Regions from separate parts of the Homo sapiens genome. Here region 2 is linked to region 1. Evidence: fine-mapped expression QTL. Tissue or cell type: whole blood. Region 1 holds a variant in brackets; the other region holds the start of a gene. All regions are shown on one strand. Distances are between the middles of the regions.

Region 1 (5,144 bases):
AGGCGCCCGCCTCTGCACCCAGCTAATATTTTGTATTTTAAGTAGAGACGGGGTTTCACCATGTTGGTCAGGCTGGTCTCGAACTCCTGACCTCCCAACTCTAGAATTCTATACTTCTATGCTTAATAAATATTTGTGGCTGAATTTACTGGAGGTGGTTATAGGGGGACATGGAAGGAAAACTATAAAAATGCAATTTAGTATTTGTTGATAAACCATACAGCCTGACTGGCATTGAAATTGGTTGTCTGTATAACTTTTCCATTACCAACTGAACTGTGCTAGAAGAAATATTAAAGGAAGTTCTTCAGACAGGAGGGGTATGACACCAGATGGCGATTTAGATCTCCACAAAAAATGAGGAGGCCTGAAAATGGTAAAAATGAAGGTCAATTTAAAAGTTATAATGGGGGCGGTCGCGCACACCTGTAATACCAGCACTTTGGGAGGCCGATGCGGACGGATTGCCTGAAGTCAGGAGTTCCAGACCTGCCTGGCCAACATGGTGAAACCCCGTCTCTACTAATAATGCAAAAGCGAGGCTGGTGTGGTGTCGGGAGCCTGAAGTCGCAGCTACTCATGAGGCTGAGGCAGGAGAATCACTTGAACCTGGGAGGTGGAGGTTGCAGTGAGCCAAGATCGTGCCACTGCACTCCAGCCTGGGCGACAGAGTCAGACTTCGTCTCAAAAAAAAAAAAAGGTTATAATGGTGTTCTCATTAGAAGAACTACAGACCCCAGAGCTCTCAAATCGCCGGAAGGATTTCTGCGGTAGGCCTGTGCATGATGGACAGAGGACAGGTGGTAAAGAATCACGGACACCTAGTAGGACAACTAGGCATGGCTTTGTCCCGGTTTCAGAGCACCGACACAGCATTTAGTCACCATTTACCTTCTTGGGAGGTGGGTTAGGCAGCGGGCACACTAGTCCTGCTTTGTGGGAGCAGAAGTGAAGTCTCAGAGAAAACAGGTGACTTGCCCAAGAAGCCTTATTAATTACCAGCCAGGACAGCGTATTTTCTATTCCGTGTGTTTTGGGATAACTTAGTGCCGTCCCCTCCGATGAACCAGTGCCTTCGAAAGCCCTTGAGATTTGGGAAACAGGCGGCACAGATCTTGGAGGTTACCTTGTTCTTAATCAGTCCTCAGGCAGTCGCCTCTAACGCGAGCGAACACCGGCTTCCCGAGGCCGTCGCTCGGCAGAGGAGGGGCCAGGCGCCCGATCCCAGATCCCCTTTCCCCGCCCCGCCGCGCCCCGCCTGCTCTGGCACAGCCGCACTCCCGCAAATCCCTCCCGCGGAACCCCCACTCCTGCCTGCGCGGGCGCTGGAAGGCGGGCAGGGGGCGGGGCGCCGCGGCGCGTCCGTTGCTAAGGCCGCGCAGCCCTAGTGACCGAACGCCCTGCGGCGGCCGCGCAGGCGCTGTGGTGGGCTCCGGTGCACTGTGGGATGGAAACCGGAGCGGCGCGTCCTGGCAGGACCGGGCGGCGGCGGCGGCGGGGCCGGCGGCGGCCAGGGACCCGGGCTTAGGCTCGGCCAGGCCGGCTGAGGGGCGCGGGCGGCCAGCGGGCGGCGGACGCCGTCATGAACGCGGCGGTGGTGAGGCGGACGCAGGAGGCGCTGGGGAAAGTGATTCGGAGGCCGCCGCTGACCGAGAAGCTGCTGAGCAAGCCCCCGTTCCGCTACCTGCACGACATCATCACGGAGGTGGGCGCCGGGGACCGGGCCCGGCCAGGTGCGGGTCGGGATTCCGGTGGGCGCCGAGGTCAGGGCCCGGGCCGGGTGGCGCCGGGTGCGAGCCGGGCTCGGGCTCAGGTGCGGGTCGGGGGCCGGGGCTGGGCCGGAGTCGGGGCCCGGGCCGGGTGTGAACCGGGTGTGGGCCGGGCTCGGGGTGCAGGTCGGGGACCTGTTCAGGGCCGGGTGTGGGCCGGGCACAGGGTGCGGGTCGGGGGCCGGGGTCAGTTCCGGGGTCGGGGCGAGAGTTCTGTGCGGCCCCTGCCTGGGAGCCCGGCCTGTAGGCCCAATTCCGCGGCGCCCTCCGTGAGGAGGTCCTGCCCCTCCCCCGGCTCCGGGCCGCCGCTTACAAGGAGGCTCCGGGCCCTCAGGAGCATTCTTACTTCTTCCCTGCCTGCCCTTGTATTTCCTTAGAGTGCATCTTCCATTATTGCTGGCAGAGCTGCTTCTGTGACTCCTGCCTCGTCTAACCTTGCAGAACCCCTCTCGCTTGCCCTGAAGTATGTAGCACGTGGAAGGCACTCCCTAAATCCTGGGAGAATGGAAATAATATTTTTTATACAACCCTTCTGCCCCAAAGTTTCCCTCCATACCACATTTTGGGTGCTTAATAAATG[C/T]CTGCGGGTGGATTTAGTGGAGGCGGCTGTAGGGGGACTTGGCAGGAAAGACTGTAACAGAGCTGCACAGCCTGCCCTACGTTGAGATTGGTGGTCTCTGTAGCTTTTTCCACTTGCGGATGGTGTGCTCCTCCGTGACGGAGACCCTGGCTTGCTTATTAGCATGGCTCTGGTGATCTGCACTGGGTAAGGTACATAGAAATTGCACAACAAACATCCCCTGTTGAGTGGGACCTGTCAAGGCTCGTGGTAACTCCCTGGTAACTCTCAGGAGCGTCACTGCAGCGGGCGCAGCACCCATTTCCATGGTGGACCCAAGGGCACGTGGGAACTCAGAGGTGTGTTTTGGGATTTAGGATTCAGGTTGGACTTGCAGACTTCCAGGGCCTCATGACCTCACCTGGTGATGGTCCTCAAGCTCTGTTTCTCACTCTTTTCAACAGGTTGGGTGCCTTATTCTTGCACAGACTTTGCTTTACTGGTTCTGCCCTCCTACCTTAGCTTATAACGTGTGGTCTCCTGGAGCGTGTGCCTCTGTGTTAAAACAGTGCCTAAAAATGCTCTCGAATCCACCCACATCCCAGGGCCTCGCCAGCCCTGGTCATGTCCTCCCAGCTGGTGCAGCACTTACAGCCTGTCCTGGACAGTGTGTGGGGAGAGGACCTGCTGTGTGGATAGCCCGGTGGGAGGGGGACAATGTGCCGCATCACCACCGTCCCGTGAAGTAGGCGGGTACCCGTCCTCTGACCCAGAGGGAACAAGAGCCAGTGTGAGCCCAGCCCACTCTAGCTGTGGCTGCCAAAACCTTTATTCTCCCAGGCCTGTCTGTCCCACTGAAATGCAGAGCCCCAGGAGGGAGGTGCAGGGAGTGTGCCTTATCCTTGTGGGGCAGTGATGGCGCTCAGCTCACGGTGGCTGTCCAGTCACTACCGCATAGTTGGTCAGAGGAATCCTAATGGGAGAGGAGGAGGAACATGGGCTGGGTGCTGTGGCTCACGCCTGTAATCCCAGCACTCTGGGAGGCCAAGGCGGGCAGATCACTTGAGCCCAGATGTTCAAGACCAGCCTGGCCAACATGGTTAAAACTCCATCTCTACTGAAAATACAAAAATTAGCTGAGTGTGGTGGTGCACCTGTAATCCCAGCTACTCAGGAGGCTGAGTAGGGAAGATTGCTTGAGCCGGGAAGGTTGAGGATGCAGTGAGCTGTGATTGTAACACTGCACTCTAGCCTGGGTGACAGAGTAAGACCCTGTCTCAAAAAAAAAAAAAAAAAAAAAAAAAAAGAATTGCCTTCTTGGCCAGGTAGATAGGGTGTGTGGAACGAGTTGCATGTTCCCAATTAGGAACGACTGGTCTGCTCTTCTCCCATAGACTTCCTCATCTAATGCCAAAGTTGATTTCTCTCCCTGTGTAAAGATAAATAAATTATGACCTACTTGATAAAGTTGTTAGAATGACTGACATATTGGAAAGGATTTTCAGATAATAGGTGGAGAGCCTCTTATGAAAATGCTTTACTGTACTGAATATTATACACACATTGCTATATTAGTATTTTAGCTATAGCTACACTAACCACCCCGTTTCATTAAGCTAAGTGTGGATACTGTGACGTTAATGTCTCTTGTCACTTACAGTTATTGTTCACAATTTTTTTTTTTTTTTTAGAGGGATTCTTGCTCTGTCGCCCAGGCTGGAGTGCAGTGACACAGTCTCCACTCACTGCAACTTACGCCTCCCAGGTTCAAGCAATTCTCCTGTTTCAGCCTTCTGAGTAGCTGGGACTGCAGGCACATGCCACCATGTCCAGCTAATTTTTCTATTTTTAGTAGAGATGGGGTTTCGCCATGTTGTCCGGCCTGATCTCGAACTCCTGACCTCAGGTGATCCGCCTGCCTCGGCCTCCCAAAGTGCCGAGATTACAGGTGTGAGCTACTGTACCCAGCCTATTGCTCACAATTTTAACTGCCAGCATCCTGGGAAAACCTCAACAGGGACAAAATGAAAATGTTCCAGGAATGTTAAATGCAGGATGCTCTTAATATTCTACCTGTCATCTCAAGAAAAACAGTAGCATAGCTCTTACATAGTGTGGTGTGGAATGAAAACTCCTAGATTCATTAATACCTAACTTGATGCAAATTAAGGAGTTGTGGCTTGATTCCAGAGGAGGCTCTCATTAGGGTGGGACTGTCTTGTTTTTAAAACATGTCTTCCCGTAATAAATATGCTTTATTAGCTGACCTAGGATATGTGGCTATGAGCATACCTGTCCTTACCACATACCATGCAGCCTGCTGGTAAGGGTCCCAGCTATTCAAAATGCTTGTTGCTACAAATTGTATTGATTTTACAGTAACCTACCACATTTCAAAAAACTGCAGTCTGAGACAACCCAGGACCCTGGCTGGGTGTGGTGGTTGAGAGGAACAGGAAAAATAATTGCCCTAAAAGCTGGTTTTAGGGCTAATTAGGAGGTACAGGTTACCTGAGGGAAGGGATGATTAGGGAGAGAACCAAAGCAGTGAGGTGTGGAGCCTGCCACCATCTTAAGAAGTGAGTAGTGACACGTGGTGAGGAGAAAGACCCTTGCAGAACTTCTAGTCTTAGCAAACTAGGTTGAGAAATTCCTTTTCTTTTCTTTCTTTTTTTTTGAGGCAGAGTCTCACTGCGTTGCCCAGGCTGGAGTCCTGTGGCATGATTCTGACTCACTCCAACCTCCACCTCCCGGGTTCAAACAATTCTGTTGCCTCAGCCTCCTGAGTAGCTGGGATTACAGACGCCCACCACCAT
Region 2 (5,144 bases), 90 kb before region 1:
CAGTAAGTTCTGAGTTGGCCCACGTGAGGACCAGGCCTACTATTCTTTGAGAATCTGCAGTGTTGGGCTTTTGAAAAGACTGAAGCTCAGGGCGTAACCTTCAAGGTGGGGGTTTTCTTAATGACCACTGCCATTCTCCAGGTGACAGCCAAGAACCTGAACTACGAATGCAGGAGCCGGACAGGGGGAAAGGGACGTCTAAGACTCATCCTCTTGTTCGTTCAACCTGTTGAAGTGGCAGGATTGCCAGTTCCTGGACGCTACCTGCAGGGCTCCAGTGTCCCCTGGAACCTGGGAGGTCAAGGTTGCCCAGGCAGGGCTCCAGGGAGGTGTCTCCATGGACCGTCTGGTTTCCAGCCTGAAGGATTGATGCCCTTGTTGCTCTGAAGGATCCAGAACATGAAGGGAGGAGCAGGTTTTGTTGGAAAGCTGAGTTCACATTTGAACTTGTTGCAGAACCTGTGGGATTCCTGAGAGGCGACAGCCAGGGGCATTTGGATAAACTCTATGAGAGCTCCAGAGAGGGCTGGGCTGGAAATAGATTTTGCAGCTGGTAGCACAGCAGGTGAAGCCATGGAGATCATACAGATTACAGCCTAGAAGCTAGAGAAGAGGGCCTAGCAAAGAAATGTGGGGCACAATATTTAAGAAGACAATATTCGCCGGGCACGGTGGCTCATGCTTATAACCCCAGCACTTTGGGAGTGAGGCAGGTGGATTGCTGGACCAGCCTGGGCAACACTACAAACATCTCTCTCTACAAAAAAAATACAAAAATCAGCCAGGCATGGTGATGTGCGCCTATAGTCCCAGCTACTTAGGAGGCTGAGGTGGGAGGATCACTTGAGTCTGGGAGGTCGAGGTTGCAGTGAGCCATGATCGTACCACTGCACTCCAGCCTCCAGCCTGAGACAGAGTGAGAACCTGTCTCAAAAAAAAAAAAAAAAAAGACAACATTTAATATCCAGTTGTGAAGAGCCACTGCCAGAACCTGAGAAGGAATGGTGGAACAAGAAGAGCAAGAAGACTAGACAGAGAACAATTTTTTGAGATAAGGTCTCACTCCCATTGTCCAGGCCAGAGCACACTGGCGTGATCTCAATTCACCGCAGCCTTGACTTCCCGGGCTCCAGTGATACTCCCACCTCAGCCTCTCGAGTGGCTGGGACTACAGGTGCGGGCCACCATGTCTGGCTAATTTTTTGCATTTTTGGTAGAGATGGAGTCTTGCTATGTTGCCCAGGCTGGTCTTGAACTCCTGGGCTCAAGCGATCTGCCTAACTCAGCCTCCCAAAGTGCCGGGATTACAGGTGTGAGCCACCGTGCTCTGGCAAGAACAATGTTTTAAGAAGCATGAGGATGTTGAGTATCAAATGCCGCAAAGTTCGGGTGAGAAAACTGAAGAGTCTACTCGGCAATCAGGAGTTCATTGGAGACTCTGGCAGAAGTTTTCTATAGTAGAATGGCAGGAAATGTAGCCATACTGAAATTTTGTTAGGGACAAACAGGTGATGAGGAAATGAAGAAAATGAGAATGAAGACTGTTTTTAAGAAACTGGAGTGTGAAGAAAACAGTAGGACAATAAGTAAGAAACCTCAACGGGGTGTGAGGACAAGTTCCCCAGGATAAAGTGGATAAGATGGAGGTTGGCACTTAAGATTTGGAGCAGGTTCAACAGAGAGGAATGGCAAGGTTTGAGGGATGGTTCCTGACGTCTAAGGGCGCATTTAATATTCTTTCAAGGTTAAGGTGGGGCAAGATCTGGAGGAGAGAGGATAGTACCCCAAGTGTCATCATCCATTGACAGGTCAATAGGTAGTACAGCGACATGGGAACAGAGCAGGTGTGCACAGAAAGCATGGTTTCCCAGGGAGGGCAGTATTTTTCCATGAGGATGCAAGAGTGAAAAGCCTGGGAGATTCCACGAAGAGCTGAGGGGCTTCTGAGCCACAGCTTAAACCTTAACCCTCCTCCTCTCAGATACATTCAAATCCAAGTACTGATAATAATCTAGTAAGACCTGGGCTTCCCTGGCTACCGTCTATCAAGGAATGCCAGTGTCTGCCTCTGGGCAGTGCGCGTTGGATTTGGGTTCTCTGCGGGGTCTTGCTGATCTTAAAGACAATGCAGGGGCCTTGTGAGTCTCACCTCTGTACCCCCAGCACATAACAGGTGCTCAACACATTCGCGAGGGGAGCGCTGAGCAAAGCGGAGGCCCGGGTTCCCTCCTGGAGAAACCTGCTTCCCCTCCAAGGCCTCAAGCGTCCGCTCCTTCACTGACCTCAATCGTTGATTTCGGCTGCACTTCCTATCCCTGGGGGAGCTTTCAACGCTCCGCCGTCCAGGCCGCCGGGCCCCGCAGCCCGCGCCCCGCTCTCTAGGGCTGGGCCCCCAGGGGCTGGACGACCTCTCTCGCCTTCGCTTTCTCAAGCGTAAATCGGGCGGCGGGGGCTGCAGAGCCTTCATCTCTTCCTCCGTCCCGGGATGTCGGAGAGACGGCAGCCCAGCCTCCGCCACCGCAAAGCTGCTTAACGGGCAGCGCGAGTCCCTCGGGCACCGTTGGAGGCCGTTGCTCACCGTTGGGCAAGTGCTTTAAGAAGCACGAGGATGTCGAGTGTCAAATGCGGCAAAGGGCTCAGAGCTCGCCGCCAAGGGGCGTGGCCTCCGGGCCGCGGCGGCCTCTGGGAGTTGTAGTCCCGCCTCAACTTGTGGTGGCCTCTTTAAAAAAACAAAAAACAAACAAACAAAAAAACACTGGCGCTTGGGTCCGTCGCTGCCTCGGTGTCCCTGTCGGGCTTCCCAGCAGCGGCCTAGTGGAAAAGTAAAAGATGTCTGAATATATTCGGGTAACCGAAGATGAGAACGATGAGCCCATTGAAATACCATCGGAAGACGATGGGACGGTGCTGCTGTCCACGGTTACAGCCCAGTTTCCAGGGGCGTGTGGGCTTCGCTGCAGGAATCCGGTGTCTCAATGTATGAGAGGTGTCCGGCTGGTAGAAGGAATTCTGCATGCCCCCGATGCTGGCTGGAGAAATCCGGTGTATGTTGTCAACTATCCGAAAGATAACAAAAGAAAAATGGGTGAGACAGAAGCTTCATCAGCAGTGAAAGTGAAAAGACCAGTCCGATTTAATAGTGTTGGGTCTCCCATGGAAAACAACTGAACAGGACCTGAAAGAGTACTGTAGTACCTTTGGAGACGTTCTTATGGTGCGGCAAAGCCAAGATGAGCCTTTGAGAAGCAGAAAAGTGTTTGTGGGGCGCCGTACGGAGGACATGACTGAGGATGAGCTGTGGGAGTTCTTCTCTCAGTATGGGGATGTGATGGATGTCTTCGTCCCCAAGCCGTTCAGGGCCTTTGCCTTTGTTCCATTTGCAGATGATCAGATTGCGCGGTCTCTTTGTGGAGAGGACTCGATGAAAGGAATCAGCGTTCACATATCCAATGCCGAACCCAAGCGCAATAGCAATAGACAGCAAGAAGTGGAAGATTTGGTGGTAATCCAGGTGGCTTTGGGAATCAGGGTGGATTTGGTAAGAGTAGAGGGGGTGGAGCTGGTTTGGGAAACAATCAAGGTAGTAATATGGGTGGTGGGATAAACTTTGGTGCGTTCAGCATTAATCCAGCCATGATGGCTGCCCCCCAGGCAGTGCTGCAGAGCAGTTGGTGTACGATGGGTGTGTTAGCCAGCCAGCGAAGCAGCCAGGCCCATCGGATGATAACCAAAGCCAAGGCAACATGCAGAGGGAGCCAAACCAGGCCTTCGGTTCTGGAAATAACTCTTGTAGTGGTTCTAATTTTGGTGCAACAATTGGTTGGGGATCAGCATCCAATGCAGGGTCGGGCAGTGGTTTTAATGGCGGCTTTGGCTCAAGCATGGATTCTAAGTCTTCTGGCTGGGAACGTAGACAGTGGGGTTGTGGTTGGTTGGTATAGAATGGTTGGAATTCAAATTTTTCTAAACTCATGGTAAGTATATTGTAAAATACATATGTACTAAGAATTTTCAAAATTGGTTTCTTCAGTGTGGAGTATATTCAGTAGTATTTTTGACATTTTTCTTTAGAAAAAGGAACAGCTAAAGGAATTTTATAAGTTTTGTTACATGAAAGGTTGAAATATTGAGTGGTTGAAAGTGAACTGCTGTTTGCCTGATTGGTAAACCAACACACTACAATTGATATCAGAAGGTTTCTCCTGTAATATTTTATCCCTGGACTTGTCAAGTGAGTTCTTTGCATGTTCAAAATGGAAGCCATGAATTAGAACTACATTCTTTATTCCTTGTTTTAATTTGAACCCCACCATATGGATTTTTTTCCTTAAGAAAATCTCCTTTTAGAAGATCATGGTGTCACAGTTTGGTTCTTTTGTTTTGTTTTTTAACACTTGTCTCCCCTCAAACACAAAAGTACAATATGAAGCCTTCATTTAATCTCTGCAGTTCATCTCATTTCAAATGTTTATGGAAGAAGCACTTGGTTGAAAGTAGTGCTGTAAATATTCTGCCATAGGAACACTTCTGTCTACATGCCTTCTCATTCAAGAATTCGTCATCACGCATCACAGGCCGCGTCTTTGACGGTGGGTGTCCCATTTTTATCTGCTACTCTTTATTTCATAGAGTCGTATCAACGCTGTGAACGCAAGGCTGTGATATGGAACTAGAAGGCTGTTTGAACTTTTGAAACCTTGTGTGGGATTGACGGTGGTGCTGAGGCATGAAAGGCTAGTATGAGTGAGAAAAGGAGAGAGCACGTGCAGAGACTTGGTGGTGCATAACGGATATTTTTTAACTTGGCGAGATGTGTTTCTCAATCCTGCGGCTTTGGTGACAGTGTGCAGACAGCAATGATAGCAAATAATGTACGAATGTTTTTTGCATTCAAAGGACATCCACATCTGTTGGAAGACTTTGAGTTTTTGTTCTTAGATAACCCACTTTATTTGAATGTGTTAAGTGAAATGATACTTGTACTCCCCCTACCCCTTTGTCAACTGCTGTGAATGCTGTATGGTGTGTGTTCTCTTCTGTTACTGATATGTAAGTGTGGCAATGTGAACTGAAGCTGATGGGCTGAGAACATGGACTGAGCTTGTGGTGTGCTTTGCAGGAGGACTTGGAAGCAGAGTTCAGCA

Evidence for each region. PIP is the estimated chance that this variant, and not a neighbour inherited with it, causes the effect.
Region 2: it holds the start of LINC02610, and the variant in region 1 is fine-mapped to the expression of LINC02610 in whole blood (TOPMed, PIP above 0.99).

What each region holds. Positions count from the first base shown.
Region 1 is chr2:238,319,081-238,324,224 of GRCh38, forward strand. TRAF3IP1 (TRAF3 interacting protein 1) reads left to right here and starts at 1,438. Exons shown (of 17, transcript NM_015650.4): 1 at 1,438-1,705. The coding sequence starts at 1,583. RefSeq lists silencers at 1,092-1,571, 1,702-1,931. The variant C/T (reference allele first, on the strand shown) is at 2,350.
Region 2 is chr2:238,229,052-238,234,195 of GRCh38, forward strand. It overlaps LINC02610 (long intergenic non-protein coding RNA 2610), which reads right to left and starts at 2,626. Exons shown (of 3, transcript NR_026926.1): 1 at 2,283-2,626. It also overlaps the pseudogene TARDBPP3.